Linked DNA regions of Homo sapiens: regions 1 and 3 are each linked to region 2. The links come from fine-mapping of genetic effects on gene expression. A gene starts in region 2. Each other region holds a variant in brackets. All regions are shown on one strand. Distances are between the middles of the regions.

Region 1 (5,229 bases), 53 kb after region 2:
ATGGCCAAAACAACCAAATAACAGTTGCTTAAACAAGAAAGGAGCGTATTCCTCTTGTTGAATAGCAGAGTGTACGTTGGCCAGAGTTTTGAGGATAAGGATAGCTCCTACGTTATATTCTTATTTTAGTGGAAGCGATATCTAACCATATTTTGTACAGTGATTTAATCAGCAAACCAGCATGATGAGTGAATCTATGATATGCTAGAGAATATTCAACCAGGGTTTTACTTTTTGCGGATTCCTTTAGTAATATATAGTGAGCATTTTCCACGTGCCCTGCCCACTACTAGGCACTGGGAACACAGGAGAATAGGATGCTGCCCTCTTCCTCCAGGGGCTTACATTTAGAAGTGGCTTTTAGAATCTTCTAGTATGAAATGGGAGGTCTTTACTGACATGATGTGAGACACAAAATTGTTAGTTCCTGGTGAGCAGAGACCATGTCTTTTCCAATTCTGGATTCTGCACACTGTCTAGAACATTTCATGGACAGAGTTGGGGCTTGATATACCCTTACTAGATGAATAAAAGATTTGTTTTGCTAAAGACTTGGTAGAGGTAACAGCCTGGATTCTCAGGTTCTGATCTATTGTGCTTTCTACTTGAGGAGCCAGGTATATCTTGGGGGAGAAGATGATGTCCATGAAACAGCTAAAAATGAAACAAGAGCATATGAGGCGGAAACCCCACACAACATGAAAGGGTTTCACCCCACGCAAAATGACCACCAGTTTCTGCACTCTGGCACCTGTTCATAGTGCATATTGGTCAGCATTTTTTTTTTCAGACATTGACAGCCCCCAAAACCTGGTCACTGACTGGGTGACAGAGAATACAGCCACTGTCTCCTGGGACCCGGTGCAGGCCACCATTGACAGGTATGTGGTGCACTACACGTCTGCCAACGGAGAGACCAGGGAGGTTCCAGTGGGGAAGGAGCAGAGCAGCACTGTCCTGACGGGCCTGAGGCCGGGCATGGAGTACACGGTGCACGTGTGGGCCCAGAAGGGGAACCAGGAGAGCAAGAAGGCTGACACCAAGGCCCAGACAGGTAATAGAAGTGAAGAGAAGAGCAAACCCGGGTAGTAGCTGCAGGTTGATCTATTGCAGCTGAGTGATGATGCAGCTGCTTTTGGCATCTGTAACCTCAGGGCTGCAGACTGTTTTAGGAGAGTTTGCTGTAAAAACAAAACAAAACAAAAACAAAAAACAAACAAAGAAACAAAAAACTTTCATTCACCCAAAGAAAGAACAACGTGTTATAGGAAAGGCGTCCCGATCCAGACCCTTAGAAAGGGTTCTTGGATCTTGTGCAAGAAAGAGTTCAGGGTGAGCCCATAGAGTAAAGTGAAAGCAAGTTTATTAGGAAAGTAAAGGAATAAAAGAATGGCTACTAGCCATGGGCAGAGCAGCCCTGAGGGCTTGTGGTTGTCCATTTTTATGGTTATTTCTTGAAGATATGCTAAACAAGAGGTGGATTATTCATACCTCCCCTTTTTAGACCATATAGGGTGACTTCCTGACATTGCCTTGGCATTTGTAAACTGTCATGGCACTGGTGGGAGTGTAGTAGTGAGGATGACCAGAGGTCACTCTCATTGCCATCTTCGTTTTGGTGGGTCTTGGCCGGCTTCTTTACTGCAGGCTGTTTTAACAGCACGGTCTTTATGACCTGTATCTTGTGCTGACCTCCTATCTTATCCTGTGACTTAGAATGCCTTAACCATCTGGGAATGCAGCCCAGTAGGTTTCACCCTTATTTGACCCAGTTCCTATTCAAGATGGAGTTTCTCTGGTTCAAGCATGTCTGACAAAACTATAGTAATGGACCCAGTGGGAGCAGTCCCATGAATGCCTTTTTTTTCTTTTTTTTTTTTTTTTGAGACAGTCTTGCCCTGTCGCCCAGGCTGGAGTGCAGTGGCGCTATCTCGGCTCACTGCAAGCTCCGCCTCCCGGGTTCATGCCATTCTCCTGCCTCAGCCTCCCAAGTAGCTGGGATTACAAGCGCCCGCCACCATGCCCGGCTAATTTTGTTTTTGTATTTTTAGTAGAGACGGGGTTTCACCGTGTTAGCCAGGATGGTCTCAATCTCCTGACCTCGTGATCCGCCTACCATGGCCTCCCAAAGTGCTGGGATT[A/G]CAGGCATGAGCCACTGCGCCTGGGCCCATGAATGTCTTAAAACTCTTTCCAAAGCCTGTGTTTTTAATCATTGTGTCTCTCAGCTATAGGAAATAATGTAAAACCAATATAAAATTCTTAAAACCACTGATTAAAAACCTGTTTTGTGGCAAGCTATTTTGTATAGGTTTGACCGAATAGACGCTGTGTGATAGAAAGGAGCAAGTATTCACCTGGGTGGCTGGAGCCCTGTTTCCTTGCAGTAGGCAGCTGACTTTTAATGAGCATCATCTAAGTGCCAGGCCTGGGGAACACAGTGGTGAACAAAACAAATATCTCTACTCTCTTGAAGTCTAGAGTGAAGATAGACAATAAATAAGAAAACACATTTAAAACCGTAAATTATGCTAAATTCTGTGAAGGAGATGAACATGGTGTAGGTATAGAGAATTACAGGGTAAGGATGTCTTGCAGATGGGAAGGGTGAGTAGTAATAGGATATACATAGACAGAAACACTCAAATAACAGTTGCATCAGCAGGAATGGAGTGTATTCCTCTCTGTAGAATGTCCAGGGCTGATACGGTAGCTCCTCGTCCAGGAGACCCAGGCTTCTTCTGTGATTGTTGCTTAGTCATCCCTAGCAATTTGCCCTCCTTTACCTGGTCACCACCCTGTCTGCATTGTAGCCAGTGGGAAGAGGCATGATGAAAGTCAGGGCATCACTGGGACATTGCACATATCAGCCCTTCTCATGTTCCATTGCCAGGTCCCAGACAGACCTCACTGCAAAAAAGGCTAGGAAATGAGGTCTTTAGCTGGATGGCCCTGTGCCCAGCTTTACTTTGGTTATGCTGTCCTGACCAACACAGCAGCTGCTAGCTACATGTAGCTATTAAAATTATTTTTATTTTTATTTTATTTTCAGAGACAGGGTCTCATTCTGTTAGCTAGGCTGGAGTACAGTGGTATGATCACAGTTCACTGCAGGCTTGACCTCCCGGGCTCAAGCCATCCTCCCACCTTAGCTTCCCAAGTAGCTGGGACCATAGGCACGTGCCACTAAACCTGTAATTTTTTATTTCTTTTAGAGATGGGGTCTCACTGTGTTGAACTCCTGGGCTCAAGTGATCCTCCTGCCTCGGCTTCCCAAAGTGCTGGGATTACAGGCATGGGTCACTATGCCCAGCCTAAATTTTAATTAATTAAAAATAAAATAAAAATATTTTCTCATTTGGATTAGCCACATTTCAAATGGTCAGTAGCCACATGTGACTAATGGCTACGGTATCGGACTGTGCCGATTATAGAATACTTTCATCATTGCAGAGAGATCTGTTGGACAGTAAGTGTGCTTACAGAAGAAGGGGGAGAATGGATTTTGGCAAAAACTAGCCATTTCTGGCAAACGGAAGAGTATGTGTGATGTCCCCCAGCTGGAATAGTACCTGGGATGGTTGGAGAATGAAAAGAGGCCAGTTTTGCTGGAGCATAGAGGGTGGAAGAGCAAGTGGCCTGAGATGAGGCGGGAGGAGCAGGGGCAGATCAGCCAGGACCATGTGGTACTTAGAGGACAAAATGGGCTATACTTATTAATACTAGAAGAGTGATATGATGCAGTGTTCATTTAAAAAACATTTTCCAGGCCACAGTGAGGAGAATAAATGGAGAAAATGACAAGGATAGAAGTTGGGAGGTTCGTAGGGAAGCTGCTAGAAAAGTCTGGGTGCAAAATGCTGCTTGTCTAGGTAAGCATGATGGCAAAAGGGACAGAGAAGAGGGGATGTCTGGAATATATTTTTGAGGTATGGATGATAATACCTGTTGATAGATGTGGGGTAGGAAGAAAATGAGGACTCAAGTATGACCTGTGTTTTTTATTTGAGCAACATGGGAGATTGGACTACCATTTCTTGAGAGGGGAGACTGAGAAATAAAAAGTTTGGGGAGAAGCATCAAGACTTTTAAATATTTAAGTTCAAGATACTTGTGAGATTCCTTGGTTAATTGAGTGATTCATTTATTGATTACATAAATATTTATTGAGTGTCTAATACAGGCCAGGCACCGTGGTGGAGATGCAGTTGTATAAACTAGTCAGGGGCTCAGAATTAATAGATATTGTGGAGCGATTAGCATCCAGTTGGTATTTAAAGCCATGGGCATGAGTGAGATCACCTAGGTGGAAAAGTACAGAGAGGAAAAGAGGGAGCTTTGGGACAGGTGCAGTGACTCTCACCTGTAATCCCAGAACTTTTGGAGGCTGAGGTAGGTGAATTGCTTGAGCTCAGGAGTTCAAGACCAGCCTGGTGAAATCCTGTCTTTACAAAAAAAAAAAATACAAAAATTGGCTGAGTGTGGTGGCATGCACCTGTATTCCCAGCTACTCTGGAGGCTGAGGTGGGAGGATTGCTTGAGCCTGGGAGGTCAAGGCTGCAGTGACCTATGATGGCACCACTGCTCTCCAGCTTGGGTGAAAGACCGAGACTCTGTATCAACAAAACAAAACAAAACACAACAAATAACAGAGAAAGGGAGCTTTGGGTGCTCCAGTGTTTGAAGGTTGCTAACAAAGGACTGAAGAAGAGCCAGTGAGTTAGGAAAATCAAGGGAGTATGTAGTCATGGAAGCCAAGGGTTGAGAGTGTTTCAAGAAGGAAGGAGTGGATCAGCTCTGCCAAATGCCACCCAGAAGCAGTGTAAAGTTGAGAATGGCAAGTATGCATTAGATGTGGCAACACGGATGTTGTTGGTGACTTAGACTAGCAGATTTAGTTGTGTGGCATAGAAAGATGCAAACAGGATTGATTGGAGAGTGAGCAGTGAAGTTAAGGTATGTAGACATTTCTCTTGAGACAATCTGTCAGTTTAAGGTTGCAGAGAAATGGAATGATACGGGAGAGGATGGGGGATTCTAGACCTTGCTTGTCTGGGACTGATGACAGAGAAGAAGAGATTGATGACACAGGAGAGAAAGGGCAGATCTGCAGCAAAGTCCTTGAGAGGGTGGGAAGGCCTAAAATTCAGAGCGAAGAGTCTTGGCTTTAACATAAGATGTCAACAGGAACTTGGCCTAGACCTTCCATTTCCCTGGGCCTCCATTCTCCTC
Region 2 (5,229 bases):
GTAACCAGCCTGAAGGGTTCACCCTGGCCAAATCTGGGGCAATTTGAGCAACAAAATAATGATAGTACAGGAATATAACCCATAGAATGAAAAAAAGAATATGAGTCACTTTGAATATAAGGTGATTAATAAAATAAAGGTGGGGGAAGAAAAATTACTTTTTATAATAGAATTCTATCTAGTAAACATAAAAAGAAAGATGAAATTAGGAAAATCGCCATTTGGCAGCCAGCATAGTAGTAATTGTTCCAGGCAAGAATCAACAATGGGTGTTAAAACTAGTGAGTGAAAATATAAAAAGAAGCAGAATATTTACATGGTTTAAAAACATCATCCCACAATATACCTGTTAAATAAAAAAGGGCAAATATTTACTGTGGAGAAACCTGGCAGATATCACCCTAACCAAGTGGTCCAAGGTAACATCACCAACACTGGGACAGACTGCCATCAAGTGTCTCCTGATGTGATGGACCAAAGACACGCCGCTTCTGCCGCTGCCTGCCAAAAACGTATGGCCTAAATCTAGGCATGAAAAAATACCACACAAATGCAAACTGAGGACATTCTTTAAAATAACTGACGTTTTCTCTTCAAAAATGTTAAGGTCATGAAAGATAAAGATTGAAGAACTATTCCAACTTAAGGAAATTTTAAAGACAGGACAACTAAATGCAATTAATTATCCTGAATTGAATCCTGGGTCTGTAAATTATTTTTCTTTTGCTATAAAAGACATTAGAGAAACAATCAATGGAATTTGAATATCGTCTGTAAATTAGACAATAGTATTATGTCAATGTCAATTTCTGATTTTGATCATTGTATTGAGGTTATGAGAGAGTATGCCCTTGTTGTTGGGAAACACCCTATACTAAAGTTTTTAGACATAAATGGGTAAAGAGATAAATCATGTCTTTAATTTGCTCTCAAATGTTTTCAGGGAAAACTATTAAGAGAGAATGAATGATTGGCAAATATGACAAAATGTTAACACTTGGAGAATATGAGTGAAGGGTATACAGGGATTCTTTTAATATTTTTGCAATTTTTCTGCAAGTCTGAAATAATTATAAAATAAAAAGTTTTTGTTTTTGTGTTTGTAAGGAATGAGCACGCACTTCCATCTGCCCTCATCCCTTTACCCTTCCTGTTGGCTGGGAGATGATGACCCTAGAGAGTGGTGGGTGTGTGCTGTGGATGGTGGCACTGCCCTACCAGCCCTGGGCCACTGTCTTCTACTGTTTGGGGAGAAATCATCTATGTTGTTAAGTCACTGCATTGGAGGGTCTCTTTGCTACAGCTCCATGTCCTGCAACTAACTAATACCAGCTGTAATAAGGAGAGATTGGAGGAAGGTGGCTTCTTAGGAGCCTGGTGCACTGGTTTAGTTATTCCTATTGAGGGCATGGAAAATGGGGTCACGGAGAGAGTTGGTGAAGACCACTCATTTGGGGAGAGTTAGTGAAAGGAAATTAAGAATAGGAGAGCAACTTGAGGGCGCAATAGAGTCTTAGGATCCTCTGGGAGAGATTTTCCCTTTTAAGAAGCAGAGAAAATAGTCCAAGGGAGAAAAGAGATGTTTGGGAGTTGGGAAATTTTCTGGTGACCCTGGTTCCTACTGCACTGGTCACCTCTGTATATGGCTGGCCCAGATTCCAGGGCCAGATAGCAGGATTATTTGTGGTTGTAAGTGAAGGGCAGAGAACTATGAACCTACCTGGACTGAGGTGGAGAGGATCAAATATGATTTAGTGGGATACATAAGGAGAATTAAAAAGTTATAATAATCATGGTAGCAGGTAATCTTTACCAAGTCCTCATTGTGTCTTGGGACTAGTCTAAGTTCTTTACCCCATCTACTCATTTGAACCTCACAATAACCATAAGACACTATTCCTATTTTACAGACGAGTAAGCTGAGCCACAAAGAAGTTGTCAAAGGTCATTTGCAAGTAGCAGACACAAGCTTCAGATCCAGGCAAGCTGCCTCTGGGAACCCCCCTCCAATTTCTGGGGGCCACTTTTTGGTCCCCCGTCTCTCCTTCTCCTTTCCCTCCAGCAGCATTTGATGCTGACATAGGTGAACTGGAAACATATGGTCTCCTTCATTTTGTTGTGGATCTGCACTCCAGAATCTACTTCCCACAGAGCAGGAGAGGGATGGGGTGTAAGGAAGGGTGGCAGGTGTCAGCCCATGCCCTATTGAAATGACTCTGGTTCATAGGAAGGATGAAGGCCTGTCCATCTGAGGGCAAAAGAGGAAGGGCAGCCAGAAAGGGGCACGACTATTCTTTCCTGATTTTGGAGCTCTTGTACTGTTGGCGTGTGGGAGGCATTTGGGATGGGGTGAGGGTCAGAGTGGGCTTGTGGGACCGAATGTCCCCAGTCTGTTATTCCTGCCCCCACTTCAGAGTCCTGCCACTCACAAGTGTGAGACGATGGATGAAGGAGGAGGGAAGTCAGAAGAGCTTCTGTCCCTGAGGGTCTCTGCTCATTTCTTTCTGTGCTAAAGGCTTTTTCCCATTTTAAAAGCAGTAGGCAGGAAGTCCCAGAATGCCTGAAACAGGAAAAAGAGAAAGAAACTTTATAAATGCACTTTTGAACCCCGAGACCCAGCTCCTGGCCAGGAGACAGGCAAACTCTTTTAATATCCTTATTCTGGATTCACTTAAATGGAAACAGCCTCCAGTATTTTTAGCTGCTGTGTAATCAAAGTGAAAAAGAAGAAGGAAATGTATATATTTTTCTTTCCTAGTTAGAATAAGAGAAGGAATTGCTCATTATCTTTTAGCAGAGTCCCTGCTAGGAAGGGAGGAAAACACCAGGAGTCTCCATTTGCTCCTCCTCTGGCCTAGACAGGATTTAAACCCAGGAAGGGAAGCCAAGGAGAGACGAGAACCAGGGACGACCAGCAAGTACCAAGGTCTGCGGCAGGAGGAGACCGGCTCACAGGAGCAGCAGCATTGGAAGAGGCACCCAGCAGCCTCCCAGGTAAGAGTGCCAGTTGCCCAAGCTTTACTTACTGGAGGGAGGGAGGTGGCCAATGCAGATGAGCTCAAAAGTGGTGGCTCAGGTGCCTCCGTTCCCGAGCCTGAAAATCCGGGCAGTGTAATTAGTCTCCTATCACCTCCATGAAGAGTTAAAATGAATTGGGAAGTACCTCTCAGGACCCGTGTACTGCATCCTTAGTATTATACTCCAGTCTCAGACAGGGCTAAGCATAGTTATCCTCTTTCCTGCAACACAGATGCGTCTGTGTTGTATCAGCTTCTACCTGGCGTAACACATTTTTGTATAAAATGTTTCCTTTAAGATGTTCCTTCTCATTTTTTTTTCTTTTTAACTTACTTACAATGTCAAAGCTTTCTCTCTCTCTGTCTTTTTTTGGATAATTTAGTATTGTTGTATTTCATTATTCTTTTAAATCCTAAAACAGAATTGTTATTTTAGTTATGATTAGGAAGCTATGATAACTTTCCCTTTGTCTGGATTTTGTGTGAATCAGTTAAGGGGATGTTTGCAAACACATTTGAACAGCTTTGAAGTATCTCCAGACATTTAATTTTACAGGTTTTAATTATTATTTGTTAAGACGACAACTTCTCTCGAAATCCCCATACTATTACCCTCACAATACCTCAAAGAAAACATTTCAAGACATCTAAAAAAATGATGTGGTTGGCCGGGCATGGTGGCTCATGCCTGTAATCCCAGCACTTTGAGAGGCTGAGGCAGGTGGATCACCTGAGGTCGAGAGTTCGAGACCAGCCTGACCAACATGGAGAAACTCCGTCTCTACTAAAAATACAAAAAATTAGCCGGGCGTGGTGGCGCATGCCTATAATCCCAGCTACTTGGGAGGCTGAGGCAGGAGAATTGCTTGAACCTGGGAGGTGGAGGTTGCGGTGAGCCGAGATTGAACCATTGCACTCCAGCCTGGGCAACAAGAGCAAAACTCCATCTAAAAAACAAAAACAAAACAAAGCAAACAAACAAAAAAAACTAGTTTTTGGAGGTCTTACTTTTTACTTATTTATTAATTTTTGTGCTTGGGAGAGATCTGGGGGAAGGATGGAGAAAGAATGAATGAGAACAGGCAGGGCTTCACTTAAAAGCATGAAACCTGTGTTGCTTATATAAGCATTAAAAAAAAGAACAAGTTCCAACATAAAAGTAACAAACTGCCCACATTGGGACACAGGTTAGCCACAGTGCCTAAAATCCACTGGTTCTTGGAAAAGCTGAGGTGTCACCAAGGCATCAGATGATACCTTGCTCGGTCAGGGCTACGTATTGGCAGCTGGCCTCTTGACATTCAGACATTTGTTGCAGACTCAGAATCAAGGTGACAGTGTCAGACACAGGAAAAAATAGAGTATCAATACTGGTATCATTTTTCCAGGAGAGAAGGGAAGAAGGCACCTGGCATTCTTTCATACAACTCTAAGTACTGCTTTGTCCCCAGTTTATAGGCTGCAGCTGACTCCCGAAGGAGGGAAAATAGAACAAATGATTTCAAATCATCCCGTGGCTTCTGGTTTTCCAGTCCAGTGCTGCTCTGTGGTTTGAAATGTAGGGTGGGCAGAGCTCTCTTTCTGAGAAGATGCCTGAGGAAATTGTGCCCAGGCCCAGTGGAAACTTTTGTCCATTCACTGCTCATTCCAGAGCCTTGGCTCCTATAGGATCTGGATACAGACATGAGATCATGGTTTAGGTCCTGTAGCCACATCTGGAGCCACCAGTCTGTGAGCAGAAGTTGCTAAGATCTCAGGCCTGATCTCTGGATGGACAGGGACTTTGCTGCTTCTGCCACAGTGGACTCACTGCTAATGCTGCCCAGCCACCATTTGAATCTGTACCCAGCGAGTGTGAGTGGAACAGTGCAAATGCTTGGAAATTAGCAAACGCTCTCCTCCTTGCTAGAAGACTGGAACTTTAAAGTTACTTCAATATGTGGAAAACAACACGTTAGCTAAAGAAAGAAATTGCAGAGTTTTTTGTTTTGTTTTGTTTTAATCTGACGCCCCTCACACCCATGGATATTAGGGCTAATTGTATACAAAGTAATATTTAGTCATTCTGGGGACTGGCTGTTTGGTTGAATAAGGGAGAGGAAGGTTCCTGAATTTAGGTCCCGTGTCTATTTTATCTTGTTATTGTGCATGAGCTTGGTCCCACAAAAGCTAAAGGAAGTTCTTGCTGTGAGAAAGTGATTCATTCTCTGGG
Region 3 (5,229 bases), 25 kb after region 2:
CAACAGCAACAATCTCTATCATTTGCGCGATCACTGTATTCTAGTGGGCTTCTGTATATTGTGAGACTTTGTAAATATTATCTCTGGTCCTTATAATATCAATAGGATTGTAAGCATTATTATTTCCATTTTACATATGAGAACACTGAGGCCTACAAAGTTTAGGAGACTCAGGGTGAGCTAGTGAACAGCTAGCTGGTACAACTTAGGTTCGCTTGAAATCAAAGTCAATAACCTTTTTAGAAGCAAAGCTGGAGGACAACAGGAAGAAGGGCTGACCTCTCTGAGTGCATTTTCTACAAACGATGCCTTTTGGATAATTTTGTTGCCACAATTGAAAGACATTAGAGGAGGTCTGTGAAAACAAGAGTACAGAACGTGTAGGTATTGTGGTCTCAAGGCACCTCTTCCAGGAACCCACCTTCAAATCAATGACACAGGTCCTGCCCCCCGTGTCTTCCTCCCCCAAGATCATTTCTCATAGATTTTTCATCCCGTCAGTGCCATCTTCTACTGCACCAACTGGGAGATTCACAGGTGGAAATTGTGAGTGGAGAAACCTGTTCCTAATGCCTGTGACTATGTGCTCAAGTGTGGACAGGAGCTTTCGGATGTTACAGCCTAGTGTGAAGACAGATGTTCCCTACCCAACTCTGTGGCAAATCTTGTTATAAAGTGGAATAAGCTTTCCTGATGTGAACAGAGCTTCTAATTAACCTCCTCCATATACTGTGTTCAGGTTTTGCAAATTAGATCTCTTTGAAGTGAAGTGCACCTTTATTCTAACTAACGTATGTACTCACAGGCGAGTCCCACCTATCCAGTTTTACAAACCTTACTTTACATCTCATTGACCTTGAATGTCCCTAAGAAAGGTCCCACCAGGGCTGCTAGTGTCCAGCAGTTGGGAAGTTCCAGCCTGGGGAGGATGTTGGGGCCAGGGTGGGGAGAGCCTGTCTTGTAGTAGAGGCTACAGCTGTGGCTAATCTGTGATTTAGCCAGCTGCTGCAGCTGCTGAAAGGCTTCCTTGCATGGAAAAACTATTTCATAATCTCCAGATCCCTTTTTGGTAGAAAGAGGTTTCAGTCCTGCAAAGCTGGCCTCTTCCAGCAATGTGGCCTATCATGGAGGTCCCATCTCTGAGGCCTTCCTCCCATTCCTGTGTCTCAGCACCTGATCCCCATCGGGGGAATGGTCAAGGAGAGCAAGCTCTGTGAAGAGCCCCTTCTGAGTTGAGTTGCTGTGGTTAGAGAACTGAGAGAAAAGGGAAGGCAGGGGGCCAAGAGCTGTGACTGGCACTGTGAGCTTGGAGAAGTCACATCTCCTCTCTTAAACTTCTTTAAACCTCCAGGTCTCCTATAACCCTGGGCATAATATGATTCAGTTTTACCTTCCTACTCTTCATACCCAAGATGCTGTTTCCTGGCTCTTCTCCATCCCTTGAGTGCTCTGGGACTGGTGGGAGAGAAAGGAGCTACAGAGCTGGCTGCTGCTTCCTCTTTCCACCCATGTGGACATGATGGATCTTTCCTTTATTTATTTACTTTTATTTATTATTTTTATTTATTTATTTATTTATTTATTTATTTATTTATTTATTTATTTTGAGACTGAGTCTTGCTATGTCACCTAGGCTGGAGTGTGGTGCATGATCTCAGCTTACTGCAACCTCTGCCTTCCAGGTTCAAGCCATTCTCGTGCCTCAGCCTCCCGAGTAGCTGGGATTACAGGCATGTACCACCCTGCCCGGCTAATTTTTTGTGTTTTTAGTAGAGACACGGTTTTGCCATGTTGGCCAGGCTAGTCTCGAACTCCTGGCCTCAAGTGATCCACCCAGCTTCACCTCCCAAAGTGCTGGAATTACAGGTATGAGCTGTTGTGCCTGGCTATGATATATTTTTCAATACACACAGGCAGCACCAACCCCACAAAGCCACAGGCCTCTGCTGTGGGTCCTGGAAGCAATGGTAGCAAGCACCAATCTGGGGCAGGGAGATGGGGTGGGAGGCACTGCTGGGACCTGGGGTTGTACAGATGTGGATGCTTTTGAGAAGGTGAGGGCCATGAACTTCACGAGCAGGACTGCTAGGGTGTTCTTGCTCGCTTCTTCCTGCCTCCTTAGTTTTCCATTTCCACTTTGTCACTAATTTCCCCAGATTGAGATATTGGTTTTGGATGGCTCTTGTCATCTCTTCCCTATGACATGCAGGATCATGTCTTGCACAGAAAGTTGTTACAGGATGGGGAGAGAGTTCTCTCTATCGTTG[C/T]ACTCTTTTCCTTGACTGTCCTCTTACAGCCTGCTGGAGCCTCCAGAGGCCCTGGCCATGGGGTCAGACAGTGGGTGCCTGCATCCTAATTGTCCACTCTGTCATTCCTGGAGGCCCACAAGTGGCAGACTATTGGCTCTGAGCTCACAGTGCCAGTCACAGTGAGACTATTGTCTCACAAGGCAATAGTTCAAGAACGAGTTTCTCTCTCTAGTTACTGTCTATTACTGCTGCTGGATTTCATGTCACAGTAACCTTTCAGTTCACACTTTACTTTATTTATAATTTATTATTATTATTAGTTGCAAAGGAAAATGCTATTGATAGTGCTGCTTAGGACATAGACATATAAAGTGGAAATGTATAGTCTTTGTTAGATAAGAATGAGTTCAAATCTTGGCTCTACCACTTAATGTATCCAAAAGCAAACGCTTGGTCCTCTTCCTCTCCCCACTCCCTACTGCAAATGCTTCCCTCCCTCAGATATCCCTGTCTCTATAAATGGCCACTCCATTTTGCAAATTACTTGGGCCCCAAGCCAACAAATCATTCATTGTATCCCATGTTGAATCCATCAGCAGATTATGACAGCCTTACCTTTGAAAGCTCCAAAGCCAGCCTTCCCCATGACCCTCATTACTGCTGCAGTGGCCTGCACCCCCACCATCTTGCATATACACCACTGAAGCAGCCTCCTGTGTGACCTTCACTCTTGGTTCACTAGAGTGAGTATTCTCCTCAGAAGCCAGAGGGATCCTTTGATAGCCCAAGTCAGATCAGGTCATTCCTCTTTTCAAAGCCCCCAGAGACTTCTCTTGTTACTTAGTGTAAAAGACAATGTCATTACAATGGCCTTCAAGGCCATCCATAGTCCACTGTCCCTCTCACTTCCCTGGCCTCCCCTCCAGCCGCTTGACTTAACTCTGTCTAGATGCACTGGCCTCCTTGCTGTTGCTTGAACACATGAAGCAGGACCTTGGGTTAGCAGGGACATGTGTCAAAGAAAAAATGAGAGATTTTCTAAGGTCATGGGCTCAGGATATGTTCTTGGGAAGCACAGTCTCTAGGACACAGCTGGCATATTGTTCTGGGTTAGTTCTTTTTGAATATAAGCTCCACATTGGTGGGGATTTTTGACTGTTTTGCTCATTGATAACTCTTAAATGTCATTACATTCCCTGACACATAATGGATGTTCAGTGAAGTGCTGTTGAATGAATGAAGTGAGTTTTGGAGATTTGTATTTGAAAAGAGAGAGAAGAGCATGTGTAGATAAAAGTGCCAGGCCTGGAAACTGTGATTTGGAAGCAATGAACAGGGGAGGTGATGTTGTTTTGATTTGAGGAGAACTAGGGAGGGGAATGATGACTCTTCTTGAATACTTGCTGGTTGGTCTTCTGGAAGGGGAATTAGATGTATTCTCTCTGTCTACCTAGGGTAGACAATTAGAAGGAGTTACATTTGAAGGAGTTTTCTCTAATATGTTCAGTAGTCTGCAAATGGAAAATGGAATGGATTGTGTTGTCTATTGGAGAGTCCTTTCTTAGTTTAGGGTTCAAGCAGAAGCCAGTTGTCCACTTGTCACTGATGATGGAGAGACCCCCTTGTATTGCATAAACTATTGAACTAGGTCACCCAGGTGAACTAGATCTTTAACAATCTATGATCTTGACTAACCAACTGGTTTCTCTGATTTTTCTTTCTCATGTGTTTTTATGAAGAAATTGACAGTCCAACCAATGTTGTCACTGATCGAGTGACTGAAGACACAGCAACTGTCTCCTGGGACCCAGTGCAGGCTGTCATAGACAAGTATGTAGTGCGCTACACTTCTGCTGATGGGGACACCAAGGAAATGGCAGTGCACAAGGATGAGAGCAGCACTGTCCTGACGGGCCTGAAGCCAGGAGAGGCATACAAGGTCTACGTGTGGGCTGAAAGGGGCAACCAGGGGAGCAAGAAAGCTGACACCAATGCCCTCACAGGTAACAGAAGGACGGGAGCATAAATAGGTTTCCTCATGGCAGGGAGAAGGTTGATTTTTGAATCAGGAGGTCATTGCTCACCTGGCATCAGCTCTTTTGTTTGCAGGAGTGGGGAGGAGGTTGCAAAACCAATTTTGATTTTCATAATTATATATATTTTTCCTTTTTAACATCAAACAAAAGAGATCAGCTTTTTCACTTGATGCAGAAGGTCATACTTATTTGAGTTGGAATTCCGTATGCAACCCCCTCAGAATAGAGTAACACTTCCTAATTTTCATTTTTTAGATGTGAAAACTCAAAACATTGGGCTGACAGTGAATTTGAATGCTTATCTCAGTTTGCAGTGGCTGTGCAGGCACTTTGCATATAATCTGGAGCTCTCTTTTAGACCGTGGAAATAGTTTGCATCCTAAGTCAACATTTACTAAATGGACCAATTCTTCCTTTAAGCTTTCAGAAGCCATGAGGGTTCTCATACTTCACCCAGTCATTCTGCTCAGTTTGCGCCTGCAGGGGTCCTGGGACTATACTGGGACATAGCCCAGCCATTCTTTCTGCTTAAATCCTCTCCTGGTGCTTCTCTGAATTTAGAGCAGCCTGATCCTGGTGCCCGCATGAGGTTCCAAAACACCTGGCAGGAAATCAGAGGGAAAGGCTTCGCTTATTGTTTGCATTCTATTCTGGACAGTTACTGAGTATAGAGACTCTCAGAGAAGCAGAGAGATGGTTAGGAATATGGTTTCAGAAAATTGACTGTCCAGGTTTTAACCCCAGCTCTGCCATTGACTAGCTGAGTGGCTTTGAGCAAGTTACTTTACTTCCGTTCCTGTTTCTTATGGCACAAGTGAGAGCAATGATTTTTTAGAATGTTAATCAGTATTTGGCTCTTGAAAGATTTCGTGGTGCACAGCCTCCTAGATCCATGTGGGCCTCAATAGTTGACCTCTTCTTCAGGGGAGCAGAGAAGACATTGA

Which allele goes with the higher level. Alleles are on the strand shown, and positions count from the first base shown. SD is a standard deviation of normalised expression in the study named. Not every link is listed here.
In carriers of allele A in region 1, the expression in spleen of the gene that starts at base 2,892 in region 2 tends to be lower than with G alone (moderate effect, 0.50 SD a copy in GTEx).

The links. PIP is the estimated chance that this variant, and not a neighbour inherited with it, causes the effect.
Region 1: its variant is the best candidate, but not a certain one, in a credible set for the expression of TNN in spleen (GTEx, PIP 0.73).
Region 3: its variant is the best candidate, but not a certain one, in a credible set for the expression of TNN in lung (TOPMed, PIP 0.62).

What each region holds. Positions count from the first base shown.
Region 1 is chr1:175,117,771-175,122,999 of GRCh38, forward strand. It overlaps TNN (tenascin N), which reads left to right. Exons shown (of 19, transcript NM_022093.2): 11 at 791-1,054. Among named protein-coding and RNA genes, the nearest start is that of TNN, 53 kb to the left of the region's middle. The variant A/G (reference allele first, on the strand shown) is at 2,142.
Region 2 is chr1:175,064,942-175,070,170 of GRCh38, forward strand. It overlaps TNN (tenascin N), which reads left to right and starts at 2,892. Exons shown (of 19, transcript NM_022093.2): 1 at 2,892-2,994. RefSeq lists an enhancer at 2,213-3,412.
Region 3 is chr1:175,090,002-175,095,230 of GRCh38, forward strand. TNN (tenascin N) reads left to right here. Exons shown (of 19, transcript NM_022093.2): 7 at 3,989-4,252. Among named protein-coding and RNA genes, the nearest start is that of TNN, 25 kb to the left of the region's middle. The variant C/T (reference allele first, on the strand shown) is at 2,268.